4 linked regions of the Homo sapiens genome follow. The protein of the gene in region 2 interacts with the protein of the main gene of each other region in a biochemical or structural test. Each region holds a gene or a part of one and is shown on either strand. Other genes may lie near its edges.

Region 1 (3,772 bases), on a different chromosome or scaffold from region 2:
AGCACTTTGGGAGTCCCCGTGGGTGGATCACAAGGTCAGGAGTTCAAGACCAGCTTGGCCAAGATGGTGAAGCCCTATCTCTACTAAAAATACAAAATTAGCAGGGCGCGGTGGCAGGCGCCTGTAATCCCAGCTACTTGGGAGGCTAAGGCTGGAGAATTGCTTCAACCCAGGTGGCAGAGGTTGCAGTGAGCCAAGATCGTGCCACCGTACTCCAGCCTGGGCAATAGACTGAGACTCCATCTCAAAAAAAAAAAAAAAAATTTAGTATTTGACATATAAATAAAAATGTCTGGTGGTGGGTTAGGATCCCTCACATTTTCGAAATGTTTGGAATGTTTTATTTTGCAACTTAATATAATTTAAGAAATTGGTGAAAAGAGAGCTCATGGACAAAGAAGGTGCTGAAACCATTCTTCACTTAGGAAATTGACAGTGCCTCCTTAAAAGCAGAAATGCATCTGGTTGTCATGTAGAAAAGACTTTTGTCTAATCTTCTGTCTTTCTTTCAGCAACAAAAAGAGAGCAGGAGGCAGCTATTCAGAAATTATTATCTTTCTGATTTTTGTTTCATTTAGTGAATACCAGGGCCTGGTGAAGCACACAGGAGGCTGCCACTGTGGAGCAGTTCGTTTTGAAGTTTGGGCCTCAGCAGACTTGCATATATTTGACTGCAAGTGAGTATTTTTTTTTCCCTAAATTGGCTTAAAAGAATTTCAGAGTTAAAATGCAATATTTCAAAATAATCTGGGGAGTTGGGGTACAGAGGAAACATTGGCCTTGGGCTGGTAACTGTTGAAGTCAGGTGATGGGGACAGAAAGGTTCATTGTTCTATTTTTGTTCCTTTTATATGGCTCATCACAGAGCTTCAACAGCATGGCCCAGGTGACACAGAGCAGGGTCCTCAGGGCTTGTGGCTTGTGGCAGCATCACCCTCAGACTGACACTGCTGAGGAGCCGGGGGCGGTTAGCTGCAGGTGTGCCTGGCTGGGTACTGAGTGGAAAGCCTTGGGCAGAATCTTCATAGAAGTCTAGAGTTGGGGAGAGTTGGAGGGTATGTTAGTAAAGGGTGTATACACCTGGAGGCTCCCCAGGCCCTCCACTCTCGCTCTGCTCTTCGGTTGAGGCAGATGGCACTGCTGGCTGTGGAGGGCCTGATTTGTACCACCTTCCCCGGCGTTATGATGGAGCAGGGACGACAGGCTCTGGCTTTGGGACCCAAAGTTGGCATGCAGCTAATTATTTAACAGCATCCAGTCCTTTTTGCCCCTAGGTACCGGAATTATATATGAATAATAAGCACATACGATGGAATTACTCAAATGGAGAACTGACCAGGCTACTAACAATAGAGTCCAGATTGGAAAAGAAGCACTGTGGAATAACTTGTGAGAGGATTCTGTGCTAAATTAGAACTTTTTCAAAGGTGGCCTGAAAAGAGGGGACTTCAGTTTAATTCCAGAGATGGTAATTCTGGGGACGTGTTTTACTTGGAGCTGGACTTCTTGTGACGTGGTGATGAAGAAAGAGGGAAACCTAAACTTCCTTGTCCATTTTTGGTGTGGATGTCTCAGAGACATCAGGTTGTAGCAGTGTCTGAAATTTGTTTCCTAAGTGTCTCTGAAGTCCAGCGCTTCTCTTCACTGTAAAGAACTGAGGGGTGGGCAGTACAGACCTGTCTGTTGGTCCTGTGTTCTGAGCATTGCAGAACCTCGACTGCTGACTTGGGACCCCCCTGGGCTCTGCTGTACCTGCAAACCAGAGGCACTGCTATCCAGGCCTTTGCCCCAGCTCCTCGGCCCTGGATGGTGCTGAAAGGGGCATCATCTGTGGGGTCGGCTGGCTCTCATGGCTGGGCCGCTCAGGCATAGAGGATGCAGGTGGCTGCTCACAATCTGGAATTTGCTCTGTCTTTCTGTAGTTGCAGCATTTGCAAGAAGAAGCAGAATAGACACTTCATTGTTCCAGCTTCTCGCTTCAAGCTCCTGAAGGTCAGTGCTTAAGAGCAGGGTCAAGGAGTGCAGAACCCATTGGTGAGATTTACAGGACCCCCCACCCAACTGTTAGCATGCCGTCTGTAGCATGGGAGGGGCCTGGAGCATAGCAGGGCCTCTCACGGGCTTTGGTTTCAGGTTGACATTTAAAAGGTGGGCCCGGCACAGTGGCTCACGCCTGTAATCCCAGCACTTTGGGAGGCCAAGATGGATGGATCACCTGAAGTCAGGAGTTGAGGACCAGCCTGGCCAACATGGTGAAACCCTATCTCTACTAAAAATACAAAAATTAGCTGGGCGTTGTAGTGCATGCCTGTAATCCCAGCTACTTGGGAGGCCAAGGCAGGAGAATCACTTGAACCTGGGAGGTGGAGGTTGCAGTGAGCCGAGATCACACCATTGCACTCCAGCCTGGGTGACGAGTGAAACTCCATCTCAAAAAAAATGAAAATAAAAAATAAAAGGTTGTGTTATTTTTTACCTTTATTTTTTGGAGGCCTATTTGGTATTGTGGAAACATTTTCAAATTCAGAGAATCAAAAAACAATAAAATCACCCAAATCCTGTCAACTAAAGGTAACCACTGTTAATATTTTGGTGTCTGTCTTTGTGTATTATTTTCTACTCTGAGAAATACATCTAAACCTATTGTCTTATGTTTATTAAGTAGAATTTTACCATTCTTTTTGTTGATAAACTGCTTATCTCATTTCCCAATGAAAAGCTTATATACTTATTTGTAACTTTAATTTTATTATTTTGGGGAATTTTTTGTACTTGGTACAAAATTTGAAAGGTAGAAGAAAATGTGTATATACACAGTGAAAAATCTTTCCCTACTGTCCCCATGCCCCAGTCTCCCTCTTCCCCACAGCCGATTTCCTGGTCTACTTACCCCATCACTGTCTCTGCATCATTGCAGTTGAGTCCCGTTTTTTTCTGATTATCAACAACACTGGTGAACCTCCTTGGTATACATTTTTGACAATTTAGAAATTTCTTCTTTAGGATCAATTCTCTTAGAAATAAGTTCTCTGGCTATTCTGGGCACACTTCCTACACCCTGCTCTACAAGGAGCAGTTAAAAAAAAAGAGAGAAAGAAAATCTCCAGGTTAAAGAATACAGATTTTTTAAAAAAGACTTTTAGCACATTATGGGTAATGTGGGGTTGGGCGGGGCTTTAATTCCATCCAGATAATGCTGGATGGCTTGGGACCACTTGGCAGTCCTTCGCTGCTTTTCTGTGCTGCAGTGGCTATGGAGTGAGCAAGGCTCCTCAGGGAGCTATTTCTATAGGAAGCACAATTCTGGACGGTATGGCTGGGGAAGCGTAAAGAGGGTTAACAAGGATAAGAAACCTCCACCCCTTCCCCTTCAGCTGTCTGATTTCTCTCCCTAAAGGTAAGCCACTGTTTCTTGGATCCCTCTTCAAAGATACATATGCATATAAAAGCACATACAGGCCAGGCACAGTAGCTCATGCCTGTAGTCCCAGCACTTTGGAAGGCCAAGGCAGGCAGATCACTTGAGCCCAGGAGTTCAACACCAGCCTGGACAACATAGCGAGACCCCCATGTCTACAAAAAATAAAAAATCGGCTAGGTGTGGTGTTGCATGCCTATAGTCCCAGGTACTCGGGAGGCTGAGGTGGGAGAATCACTTGATCCTGGGAGGTCAAGGCTGCAGTAAGCTGTCGTCATACCACTGCACTCCAGCCTGGATAACAGAGTGAGATCTTGTCTCAAAAAAACAAAACAAAACAAAACAAAAACACCA
Region 2 (3,772 bases):
GACTCCGTCTCAAGAAAAAAAAAGAAAATGTTAAGACATGTTCCTTTTTTTTTTTTTAAGATGACCATTGTTGGAGATTTGGCAGAGGGTGGTCAGTTATTTTAGAAAGGGCTCAAATGGTGATTGCCATTACCCACTGTCTTTAAAAGCTGAATGATCAAAATAGTATACATGAAAAGATTTCAGGAATTCATAAGTTTTCCGGTTTTCCTTGATGGCACTTTCCAGTCACCTACCCTACATATGAAAATGGGAGCCTATTTCTGTTTTCAGATTGCAGAGGGAATGGCATACATCGAGCGGAAGAACTACATTCACCGGGACCTGCGAGCAGCTAATGTTCTGGTCTCCGAGTCACTCATGTGCAAAATTGCAGATTTTGGCCTTGCTAGAGTAATTGAAGATAATGAGTACACAGCAAGGGAAGGTATGTTGCACTAATGATCTTTAGATGTTTTATTATTGTGTTTTATTTTGTTTTTGTCTGTTTTTGACAAAGCAATTACAATAGTCACCATTAAGAAAAACTTATTTGGTACAACATTTAAGCTGTACCATAATTGTCTGCTTATGGTTCTATTCTAATAGTTTCTAGAAGGTACTCTCTTGATTAACTCCACATGATACTTTTGTTAGGCTTACAAATGCTATCAGTTGTATTTCAATTAAGCAATGCAAAACACAAATAGATTCAGCAAGATGATTCTTGTTTATTTTGTATTGTTAAAGTTTTCACTCAAACAATGAATATAATATACGGGGCTGTGGAGAAAATATTTGTAACATTAATTCTATATTGTTTATTCCAGCCTTTTAATTACAAATTAAAACATGAACATTACCATACACACAGAACTAAATATAATGCAAAAAATCTACTTCTTTATTTTCCCACATTCTGTATTATATATATGAACCAAAAATGCACAGAGAGGCCTAAGTTCCCCAGCCTGTGGCACATTGTCAGGGGGCCAAGCATGGTCGGGACTGCAGGGCCTTTCTTGGGCTAGGATTGCCCACGTGGTTATGACTGAGGATTCTTATGCTCTCACCCACGAGAGCTGAGCAAATATTTTTGCAGTGCTCACTGTCTTCTGGAAGAGACAAGCACTTTCTTGAAATTCCTAAGCATTGTTGAACAAGGATTATTATTATTTTATTATTTTGAACCTGGGAGGTGAAGGTTGCAGTGAGCCGAGATCGCATCATTACATTCCAGCCTGGGTGACAAGAGTGAAACTCCGCCTCAAAAAAAGAAAAGAAAAGAAAGTATGGGGTCACATGTTCATGACTTTTTTGTTTAAGTTTAAATACCCAAGTAAGAACCACATATCTTCTTCCTTAGGTGCTAAGTTCCCTATTAAGTGGACGGCTCCAGAAGCAATCAACTTTGGATGTTTCACTATTAAGTCTGATGTGTGGTCCTTTGGAATCCTCCTATACGAAATTGTCACCTATGGGAAAATTCCCTACCCAGGTATGGTTTACTTAGCTATTTACAATCAAGCTGTATAAATGAGAAAAAGTCAGGTTGCATGAAGGCATTAAAAAGTAATAATTACTTCATCTACCCGATAGCAAAGAATAAGTGCTTTGAGCCAGAACTTGATTTTCACGGGCTGGGCATGGTGGCTCACGCCTGTAATCCCAGCACTTTGGGAGGCCGAGGCAGGTGGATCACCTGAGGTCGGGAGTTGGAGACCAGACTGACCAACATGGAGAAACCCCGTCTCTACTAAAATTACAAAATTAGCCAGGCATGGTGACGCATGCCTGTAATCCCAGCTACTCGGGAGGCTGAGACAGGAGAATTGCTTGAACCCGGGAGGTGGAGGTTGCAGTGAGCTGAGATCGCGCCATTCCACTCCAGCCTACACGACAGAGTGAGACTCCATCTCGAAACAAAAAAAAGACTTGATTTTTATTTTCACTATCTTTAGCATAAATTGTTCTAAGAGTGCTTAGACACTTCTTTGCCTCCTTATTTTGAGTGTGTGTTCTTGTTCTGCACTGATTAATTCCACCACATACTAGAATGTTCCGGGCATGGTTGTTGGTGTCGAGATGAGGATGGATAGACACAGGGGCTCCTCCAAGGCAGTCCCCCTGACTGGAAGGAGGAAACCCACATGGAGACAAGGATTTCCGATGCTTGGTTTTGTAATAAGTGCCCTGGAGTCTCTCTCTCTTCAAGAAATAACCACCTTTGTTTATCAGTGGGAGGCCCTTCTGCTCTTTAACATACTGGTATCAGTGAGGGCATCATTCAGTATTTATTTCCAGATTCCTAACACCTGAAGCCTGCAGAGCCAGATTCTGACCATCCCTCCATTTTTCCATGGTCTGTGCTGGCATGGTTAAGAAGAGGGATTTCGGCCAGGTGCAGTGGCTTACACCTGTAATCCCAGCACTTTGGGAGGCTGAGGTGGGTGAATCACGAGGTCAGGAGTTCGAGACCAGCCTGGCCAACATGGTGAAACCCCGTCATTACTAAAAATACAAAAAATTAGCTGGGCGTAGTGGTGGGCATCTGTAATCCCACCTACTTGGGAGGCTGAGGCAGGAGAATCACTTCAACCTGGGAAGCACAGGTTGCAGTGAGCCGAGACTGCACCCCTGCACTCTAGCCATGGCGACAGAGTGAGACTCTGTCTCAAAAAAAAAAAAAAAAAAAAAAAAAAAAGAGGGATTTCTCCCAGAGCCTTCATATTTTCATTTATGTTTGACTATTAACAAAATATTTGCATGAGGGGAATTTAAAATTAAATTTTTAATGTTTAAATCTTTCTCCTATTCAAAAAATATTTGAGTATGCTAGGCACTCTCAGCTGCTAGGATGCCATGGTATCTGCCCATGTCCTTGAGAGTGAATATTGTAGTGGGGAGAGACTGATGTTTATCAAACACACAGCCATCCTGTAGGGTGGTGAGAGTAGTGTGGAGCCTGCGTGGAGTGGCTTAGGGATTGGCGAGTACTCACAGAAGGGGGTGGGGAGCTGCTGGTTTTATTCCATGGTCCTGGCAGCAGCAGGGACTCACAGAGGGAGGGAGTCTTGGGCTCTCTGAGGTCTGCATGTCCCCATGGGGAGAGCAGCCAGAGCATGGGCTTGGCCAACAGGAGCAGGAGGCCAGCGTGGTTTGGGCCTCTGTGAGTATTTGATGGATGGATGGGTGAATGAATGAATGAATGAATGACGCACCTAGGCCATTTGATCTCTAGACAGTCGATGGATGAGAAAGAAGGCTATGTAGCTGGGGGTTAGAGTGGCTCAGGGAGAGACTTACTGGCCATGTAAGAGCAGCCCCTCTTACTCTGCTGAGATGCAAACCAGGGAAGGCTTTTGGACAGAGCAGCCACACAGTCTGCGTGCTCCCATCACTACTGTTTCATGTGGGGATGAGCCACAGAGAAACTGGGGCAGGGACCAGTTGGCAGCTGAAAGCCTTTGGGTGGTGTCTGCCTGCACAGTGGACCGGCTGTCCCAGGAAATCCCTTTAGTGCCAGCATTTCATCTTCCAGCTGCTCTAGACACTGAGATTAATGAATTAACATTGCTGCAAAATAGGAAAAATATTTCTAATCAGCCCCAGTGTCTGATGTTATATATCTCTATCTCCATCTATGCCTACATCTCTTTCTATAATCTGTCTGTAGAGAAAGATTATATAGTCAGATTATGTATATAATCTGACACCTGATAAACATACAATCTCATAAAAGAATGTTTTGTGATATGCGTGGTGTGCTGCATGTGATGTGCTACCATGGCCC
Region 3 (3,772 bases), on a different chromosome or scaffold from region 2:
TTCACAGATGACAGGCACTTGATATTACTATACAGGCTTATTGTTTTTTTCCTCATAATTGTTAGTAACCTCATGTATATATTTCCTTTTTATCTACTTTATATAAATAAATATGTCTTAGTTCACCCAGTAGTTATATTAATTGAAAAGATTGAGCCCATGGGTTCAATGGGGTTTTTATGAGTTGAATCAGTTTAAGTGCGTCAGGTAACTTTACTATTGAAGAAAATCACTTAAATGTATATTTTTATGTAATTCTGGATTTTTATAGCTAGATTTGCTTTAATTTTGGTACATCTAGGCTTAACAAATTGAAAAATTGTATTTCCTTGTGACAGAGTTTATCCTTATAGTGTAAAATATATTACAGAAATGAATGGAAGTCTGCAAGTAAAATTCCTTAAGCCAAGAGGATCTTGTTTATAATTGTCTACTTTAAATTTATCTTGCCCTTTTCTGTATAAAAACATAGTATATCCATATTATTTCAACCTTCTCAGGCCTGCTCCTTTTCTTCAGAGGATTTGTTAATTATCTAAAAGTCAGAAACATGTCTGAAAGTATGGCAGCTGCTCATAGAACAAGGTATTTCTTCTTATTGTAGAGGTAAGAAATATTAATCTGTGAACTCTGCCTATTCCCTTTATGTATTCAAATTTGCCAGATACATATTAAATGCCTAATGTGTATTCATGATTTTTACTGTTAGCATATTTAATATTTTTTAATACTGCTAACAGTCAGCTTATTGAAATTTGATAAGTCATAGACCTTTTTAGATAACTTTTAGATTTTTAAAATTGAATTTCATAAATTTTAATTTTTAAAATACATAGCGAGTGAACTGAAATTTTGAATCAGACTTTTAAAACTTCTCTTTAAAGATTAACCATAGAATGTATATGAAGTAACCACCAGCACAAAATTTGAAGGCTTGAAAAAACAAAATATGACATAGTACTTAGACCGAAGGAATGAGCATTTTTGTCTAAAACAATATGAAATTCACATAGACATCTGGTGGAGAAAAAAATCTGATTGAAAAACAATTTGTCTTGCAGTCCTTTTAACAGTCTGGATTAAGGAATAAAAGTCATGTGAAGAAAATAGTTCTGTTATTGTTTTCTTAATGTGTGCTGATTTTTTATCAACTATGAAGGCTACAACTTGAATAAGTAGGAATATGAAGAAATGAGTAGAAGTTGTCTTACTGGTTATCCAGTGAATTTCTGGAGGTCGTGGGTATAGTAATAGTATTTATTTATTGTTCAGCGGGAGTATCTTCACATAAAGTAACCTCATACTCCCTATTCTACTTTTTAAAGCAAGTACCATGTACTTTATACCTATAAATAAGGTAAACTTATAAAGCATTTGAACTCTATTACCAAAATGTCTACTAGTACTTAACTTCTGAATGCAGGACTATAAGGAACAAAGTGTTTCAAGTTTATTAAGTATTCTTTTTTCAAATAAATAAACTGCATGCTTTGTGATTTGGTTGCTTACATTTTATCATTTATATAAGTTATACATAAGCTTATATAATTTACTTATTTCTGCTAGAGTACTATGAATACATTTGTATTTCTAGATCATGTTAAAGTATCATTTTAAGTGTTCTACTAAAGTCTCCCCCAACCACTCCCAAAGAAGTCGCTTTTTTATTTTAACAAGCAAAATATCTTTGCAGACACTGGCATTAAGAATTTGTCAGTATTAATAATAAGATTAAAAGGCAAAGTAATTTTGCTGTTTTACTAATTTGTGTGATTGTCTTCTATGCATTTTGAAGAGTCTAAAATACAATGCAAATATTTTCTAGATGAAAATCTGCTATAGAAGCCTTACACTTTAGAATGTATTCTGATATGTAGACTTTAATGAAGAGAATATTATATACTTAATATAATTCTTCTATAAAATGTGTTGTATTATACTATGATTTAGATAAAGACAACTTAATACATTTTAAGACTAATTCCTTCTTTGTCTCCAGACTGCATCAACCCGACATTCCTTTCTTATACCAATGTGAAATTTCCAGATCATCTGTAAACCTACAACTTTAATAGAAGACTACTAATAACAGAAGACAAATTAGTGAAGAAAAGACGGAGTTTCGAAATTGAATGGCAGGGTGGTTTTTGCTTACAAGCCATTTCTGTTCATTCTTTAAGTATCTATATTTCATTTGTTTTGCACATATGCATATGTGCCCATTTAAGATATTTGCATATACTTGATAGAAACCATAAAGTTGTAGCAGTTAAGTCCAGTCACATTTGGTTAATCAGTGTTTGATATAATTGAAAGAGTTGAGTGGATAAACAGTCTTCCAGCTTGTAAATGCCATTGACTTCTGACCTGACATTTAGTATAATAAAAATGAAATTCTTAACCATGTCAAATGATTTAGTTTCTGGCTCTTAGACTCATCTGGCAGTTCTACACATGAAACATCTTTTGTTATATAAGGTGTATTGAAACCTGCAGTGCTGATTATTAGAAAGGATTTGTCAGATTTTTGAACATGATATTTACATTATTATTTAGGAAAACTCTTCCTGTAAATAACCATGCATAACTTACTTTCTGCAATGTTTTCTTAGAAATTGTGTCCAGATAGCTTTCACTAATTTTAAATTAAGTGAACTAAATATATATGTGTATATGTATACACATATATATACACACACACATATATATATTTAGAAACGTGAGTGTTAAAGATAGAATTTGTTTTAGGACAAATTTTAAGAAAATGTGGGAATACCAAATGTCCTTTATAAGAAAAATAAATTTTATTTTAAGGGACATACTAGTTTTAGGGATTTTCAGATGGGAAGCTGCATTTTTAGGATTGCCCATCTTAAGAGATCTTGCAGGAAGAGATTGTATTAGATATTATATTTATTTCATTTAAGATAATTTTCAAAGTTAATTTTCTAAATAAGATAATTCTCATTTGTGTTTGTCTTTTAAAAGGCCAATAAAATATCTTTCAGTATCATTGTAATAATTTTTTAGAGTTTAATTTGTAAAGCTTAGCAAATAAAATCTTGTACTATGAATAGCTTCTTGCTTTATGACTTTAGGATTAACTTGTAAAAAACATATCCTGAACTGAGATATGCAAAATACTCATTTTCAAGTTATGGAAATGTGTTTGTGGCATATAGGACTGTGGGGTCTGTGTGTGTAGTGAGAGTGTGTAGCCACTATTATAACTGGAATTTAATTTACATTCATAAACTACTATATTTCCCATCTTGCAAATCATTTTATGTCTCATCTGTTTTTCCTTTCGGTTATATCTTTGGTTTTGAATACCAACATTTAAAATGATGGTATTTTATCTTTTAAACTTAAAAATTATTTAATACAGCTATATGGACCTTATAAAATTGATTTCTTATTTATTATTAGACATTACTACTAAAAGGTACATCTAACTATTCAGGGACATTTTTCCATTTCCAAAAAATAAAATTTATTATGCTTTATAACCTCTTCTGTATTTTCTAATTTTTTCATTGTCTTTGATAAATAAAACAGTTTTGTTTTGCTAATATAGCCTATTTTTTGTTTTGTCTCATTCAGTTTACTTTCCTGCGTAGAATTTTTATTGTTATATTAAAATTTTTATTGTTGTATTAAAGTACCTGTGTTACACCCCTTGAAGTAAGACAGTAGCATGGGGTAAAGAAAAAATATTTAGTTTAGTTGCCTAATTTGGAAGTTAATTAAAATTAAACTGTACTAATAACAT
Region 4 (3,772 bases), on a different chromosome or scaffold from region 2:
TGAAGTGATTCTCCTGCCTCAGGCTCCTGAGTAGCTGGGATTACAGGCGCATGCCACCATGCCCGGCTAATTTTTTTTTTTCTTTTTGAGACAGAGTCTCATCTCACCCCTGTTGCCCAGGCTGGAATGCAATGGTGTGTTCTTGGCTCACTGTAACCTCCGCTTCCTGAATTCAAGCAATCCTCTGCCTCAGCTTCCCAAATAGCTGGGATTACAGGTGCCTCCCATCACACCCAGCTAATTTTTGTATTTTTAGTAGAGACGAGGTTTCACCATGTTGGCTAGGCTGGTCCCGAACTCCTGACCTCAGGTGATCTGCCCGCCTAGGCCTCCCAAAGTGCTGGGATTACAGGCGTGAGCCACTGCACCTGGCCCTGGTATACAATTCTTTATCGTGCTTTTAGTGCATTCACAATGTTGTGAAACCAACACCACTGTCTGATTCCAGGACATTCTCAATACCTCGAAAAGAAAAGAAACCCTGTACCCACAGCAGTCACTCCCTATTCCCTCTCCACCCAAACCCTGGCAGCAACTAAATGACTTTTTGTCTATGGATTTATCTTTTCCGGATGTTTCATAACTGGAAACATACAACATGTGGACTTTGGGGCCAGCTTCTTTCACTGAGCACAATGCTGTCAAGCTTCATCTGTGTTGTGGCATGAATCACTCCTCTCCAGGGCTGACTAATGAGCCACTGTATTGAAAGAACCACATTTTGTTTATCCATTCATCAGTTGACAGGCATTTGGGTTGTTTCCACTTTTGGGCTATAATGAATAATGCTGTGATGAACATTCATATACAAGGTTTTGTGCAAACATATATTTTCAATATTCTTGGGTCTATATCTAGGAGCAGAATTGCTGGGTCATTTAAGTCTAACACTTTGAGGAACAGCTAAACTGTTTTCCTTGGTGGATCCACCATTTTGCATTCCTACTAGCAACATCTGAGGGTTCCAATGTCTCCACTTCCCTACCAGCACTTGTTATTATCTTTTTTATTATAGCCATCCTAGTGGGTGTGAAGTGATGTCTTATTGTGGTTTTAATTTGCATTTCTCTAATGGCTAATGATGCCAAACGTCTTTTCTCATGGTTAATGGCCATTTGTATTTGGAGAAAAGTCAATTCAGATCCTTTGTACATTTAGAAAACAGGGTTGTTTGTCTTTTCCTTGTTTCCTTGGGTTATCAAGAGGACAAAATGGAAAGATGTGAGTGACATTTACAGCCCAAGTCCAGGCATGTGGTAAGCACCCACCGAATGCTTTGCACACATAAAAATCATGCTGGTGCTGGGCAAGGTGGCTCATGCCTGTAATCCCAGCACTTTGGGAGGCCGAGGTGGGTGGATCACCTGAGGTCGGGAGTTCAAGACCAGCATGACCAACATGGAGAAACCCCATCTTTACTAAAAATACAAAATTAGCCTGCGATGGTGGCATATGCCTGTAATCCCAGCTACTCGAGAGGCTGAGGCAGCAGAATTGCTTGAACTTGGGAGGCAGAGGTTGTGGTGAGCCGAGATGGCACCCTTGCACTCCAGCCTGGGCAACAAGAGTGAAACTCTGTCTCAAAAAAAAAAAAAAAAATCATGCTGGTGATCAGGTGTGGTGGCTCACACCTGTAATCCCAGTACTTTGGGAGGCTGAGGCAAGAGGATCATGAGGTCAGGAGTTTGAGACCAGCCTGGCCAACACAGTGAAACCCTGTCTCTACTAAAAATACGAAAAATTTAGCTGGGCATGGTGGCGGGTGCCTGTAATCCCAGCTACTTGGGAGGCTGAGGCAGGAGAATTGCTTGAACCCAGGAGGTGGAGGTTGCAGTGAGCCGAGATCGTGCCATTGCACTCCAGCCTGGGCGACAGAGCTAGAATCCGTCTAAAAAAAAAAATCGTGCTGGCAATTAGTCTTTATGAGCTAAAAGTGACTAGTGACATCTCAGAAGCAGAGGAGTACAGGACCCATCTGTGAAGAACATTCCATACAGAGGAGAGAAGAGAATGGGGGCAGAGGATTGCTTAGGAAACTTCCTGGAGGCCTCTGGGGGATGCTGAGTTGTCACTTGAGGCCTCCTTGGAGGAAGCACTCAGAGAGATGGAAGCAGGAAGAGGACTGAGTGATGCCCCTGTGACGGAGGCTGCTGGGGACAGGGCTGGGAGCCTGGAAGCCAGCAGGAGGAAGGGATGGGGGCACAGAGGCACACAGAGTGAAACCAGGGGCAATGAACATGACATCAGGAAGAAAGGCAGGCATCTGAAGACCACTGGGCTCCAATTGAGGGGGTGGGTGCAGAGGGTACTGAAGTCCTGGGGCTGAGGACGATGGAAGGAGCACAGCATGTTCCATGACGGGGGTACTCAGGCTTGACAGGTGCGGCAGCACGTGGGGACCAGATTCTCTCCCCTGCTCACTTCAGGCTCCTGTTGTCCCCTTTCATTAGGAAAACACGATATTAACAAGTGCAGGCCCCTAACAGTTTGGGTTCAATACTTACTGTAAACAACCCCACGGAGGGCTGTCCCCGAGAGATCATTTGGGACCTCCCCGGAGCAGAGAGGCTTGCTGGACCACACAGCTGTCAGTGGCAATGGAGAAACAAATAGATCTGATAAACAGCAATGTCCTGTTCTTTAGAGTCACTTTAAAAAATGGTATTTATACAAAGCACAGAAAGTACAAAGCAAAAAGCAGAAAAGTAACCACCCCATCACTGAGACACTAGAATAACCATTGTTAATTCACTGGTGTATCTTCTTCTTCTCTCTACCTCCCTGTATGTATGTAATTTCCATTTTGTATATACATGTATTACATGTATATGTATAATTTTAGTCTGAGATTTCTAGCAGCATTAGCATTTTCCCATTTAGTTAGAATTTCTTCCTAAATATCATATTTTAATTTTAGTCTGAGATTTCTAGCAGCATTAGCATTTTCCCATTTAGTTAGGTTTTCTTCCTAATGATCATATTTAATGGATGTACAGGATTCTATTACATGATGTGCGACACTTCATGAAATGATTCTTCTATTATCAGATATTTAAGTTATCAACAGCATTTTGTTGTTATAAATATGACTGATGAAGGTCTTTTGCAGAAATGTTATAAACATGTCTGGTTATAGATTCCGAGGAGTGGAATTACTAGATCGAGGGACAGGAATGTTTTTAAGGCTCTTGATACAGAATGATACATTGCTTTCCAGAAATTTTTTTCCATATATGCACCAGTAAGCTGTACAAGAGAGTGCCCGCCTCATTCTAACCTTCCTATTCTGAATATTTTCATTTCAAAACACAATACATTGCAAGGTGAAGGTGGTGAATGTTCATTTTGATTTGCATTTGATTGTGGTCACGTTGAGCTTATTTGATAGAGTTATTGACCCTCATAATCCCTCTTTCGTGAATGGTCTGTTCAATTCTCTTTGCCATTTTTCTATCGAAGCTATAGTTTTTCTGTTATCTACTTGCACAAGTTTATATCACACTTGTTGCAAATATTTTCATTGTGATTTTCCTTTAAGTTTTATGATTTTTTTTTGACATTCAGGGACTGTAAATTTTTATATAGTGAAGTCTCTCAGTCTTTTCCTTTTTTCTCCCTTCGCTTTTCAATGCAGAGAATCCCTCTGCACACAGAAATTCACTTGTTTCTTCTTGTACAAGGCAGGTGGGTTATGACAGAGACTTTGGAGCTAATAGACTTGGGCTAAGGATTCAGCAGGTTTTTTTTTTTTTTTCGAGATGGTGTCTCTGTC

What was found. Proteins that work in one complex are often made in the same cells at the same time.
Region 1: the proteins of LYN (region 2) and CENPV form a complex in vitro, tested with the Homo sapiens proteins (one study listed by BioGRID).
Region 3: the proteins of LYN (region 2) and NDFIP2 form a complex in vitro, tested with the Homo sapiens proteins (one study listed by BioGRID).
Region 4: the proteins of LYN (region 2) and INPP5D form a complex in vitro, tested with the Homo sapiens proteins (one study listed by BioGRID).

The regions. Positions count from the first base shown.
Region 1 is NC_000017.11:16,346,836-16,350,607, reverse strand, and holds part of CENPV (centromere protein V), read left to right. Parts: intron 1-578; coding exon 579-677; intron 678-1,922; coding exon 1,923-1,992; intron 1,993-3,772. UniProt on the Homo sapiens protein: Required for distribution of pericentromeric heterochromatin in interphase nuclei and for centromere formation and organization, chromosome alignment and cytokinesis.
Region 2 is NC_000008.11:55,998,073-56,001,844, forward strand, and holds part of LYN (tyrosine-protein kinase Lyn), read left to right. Parts: intron 1-273; coding exon 274-427; intron 428-1,345; coding exon 1,346-1,477; intron 1,478-3,772. UniProt on the Homo sapiens protein: Non-receptor tyrosine-protein kinase that transmits signals from cell surface receptors and plays an important role in the regulation of innate and adaptive immune responses, hematopoiesis, responses to growth factors and cytokines, integrin signaling, but also responses to DNA damage and genotoxic agents.
Region 3 is NC_000013.11:79,550,517-79,554,288, forward strand, and holds part of NDFIP2 (NEDD4 family-interacting protein 2), read left to right. Parts: intron 1-500; coding exon 501-604; 3' UTR 605-606; intron 607-1,999; 3' UTR 2,000-3,772. UniProt on the Homo sapiens protein: Activates HECT domain-containing E3 ubiquitin-protein ligases, including ITCH, NEDD4, NEDD4L, SMURF2, WWP1 and WWP2, and consequently modulates the stability of their targets. As a result, may control many cellular processes.
Region 4 is NC_000002.12:233,066,704-233,070,475, forward strand, and holds part of INPP5D (phosphatidylinositol 3,4,5-trisphosphate 5-phosphatase 1), read left to right. Parts: intron 1-3,772. UniProt on the Homo sapiens protein: Phosphatidylinositol (PtdIns) phosphatase that specifically hydrolyzes the 5-phosphate of phosphatidylinositol-3,4,5-trisphosphate (PtdIns(3,4,5)P3) to produce PtdIns(3,4)P2, thereby negatively regulating the PI3K (phosphoinositide 3-kinase) pathways.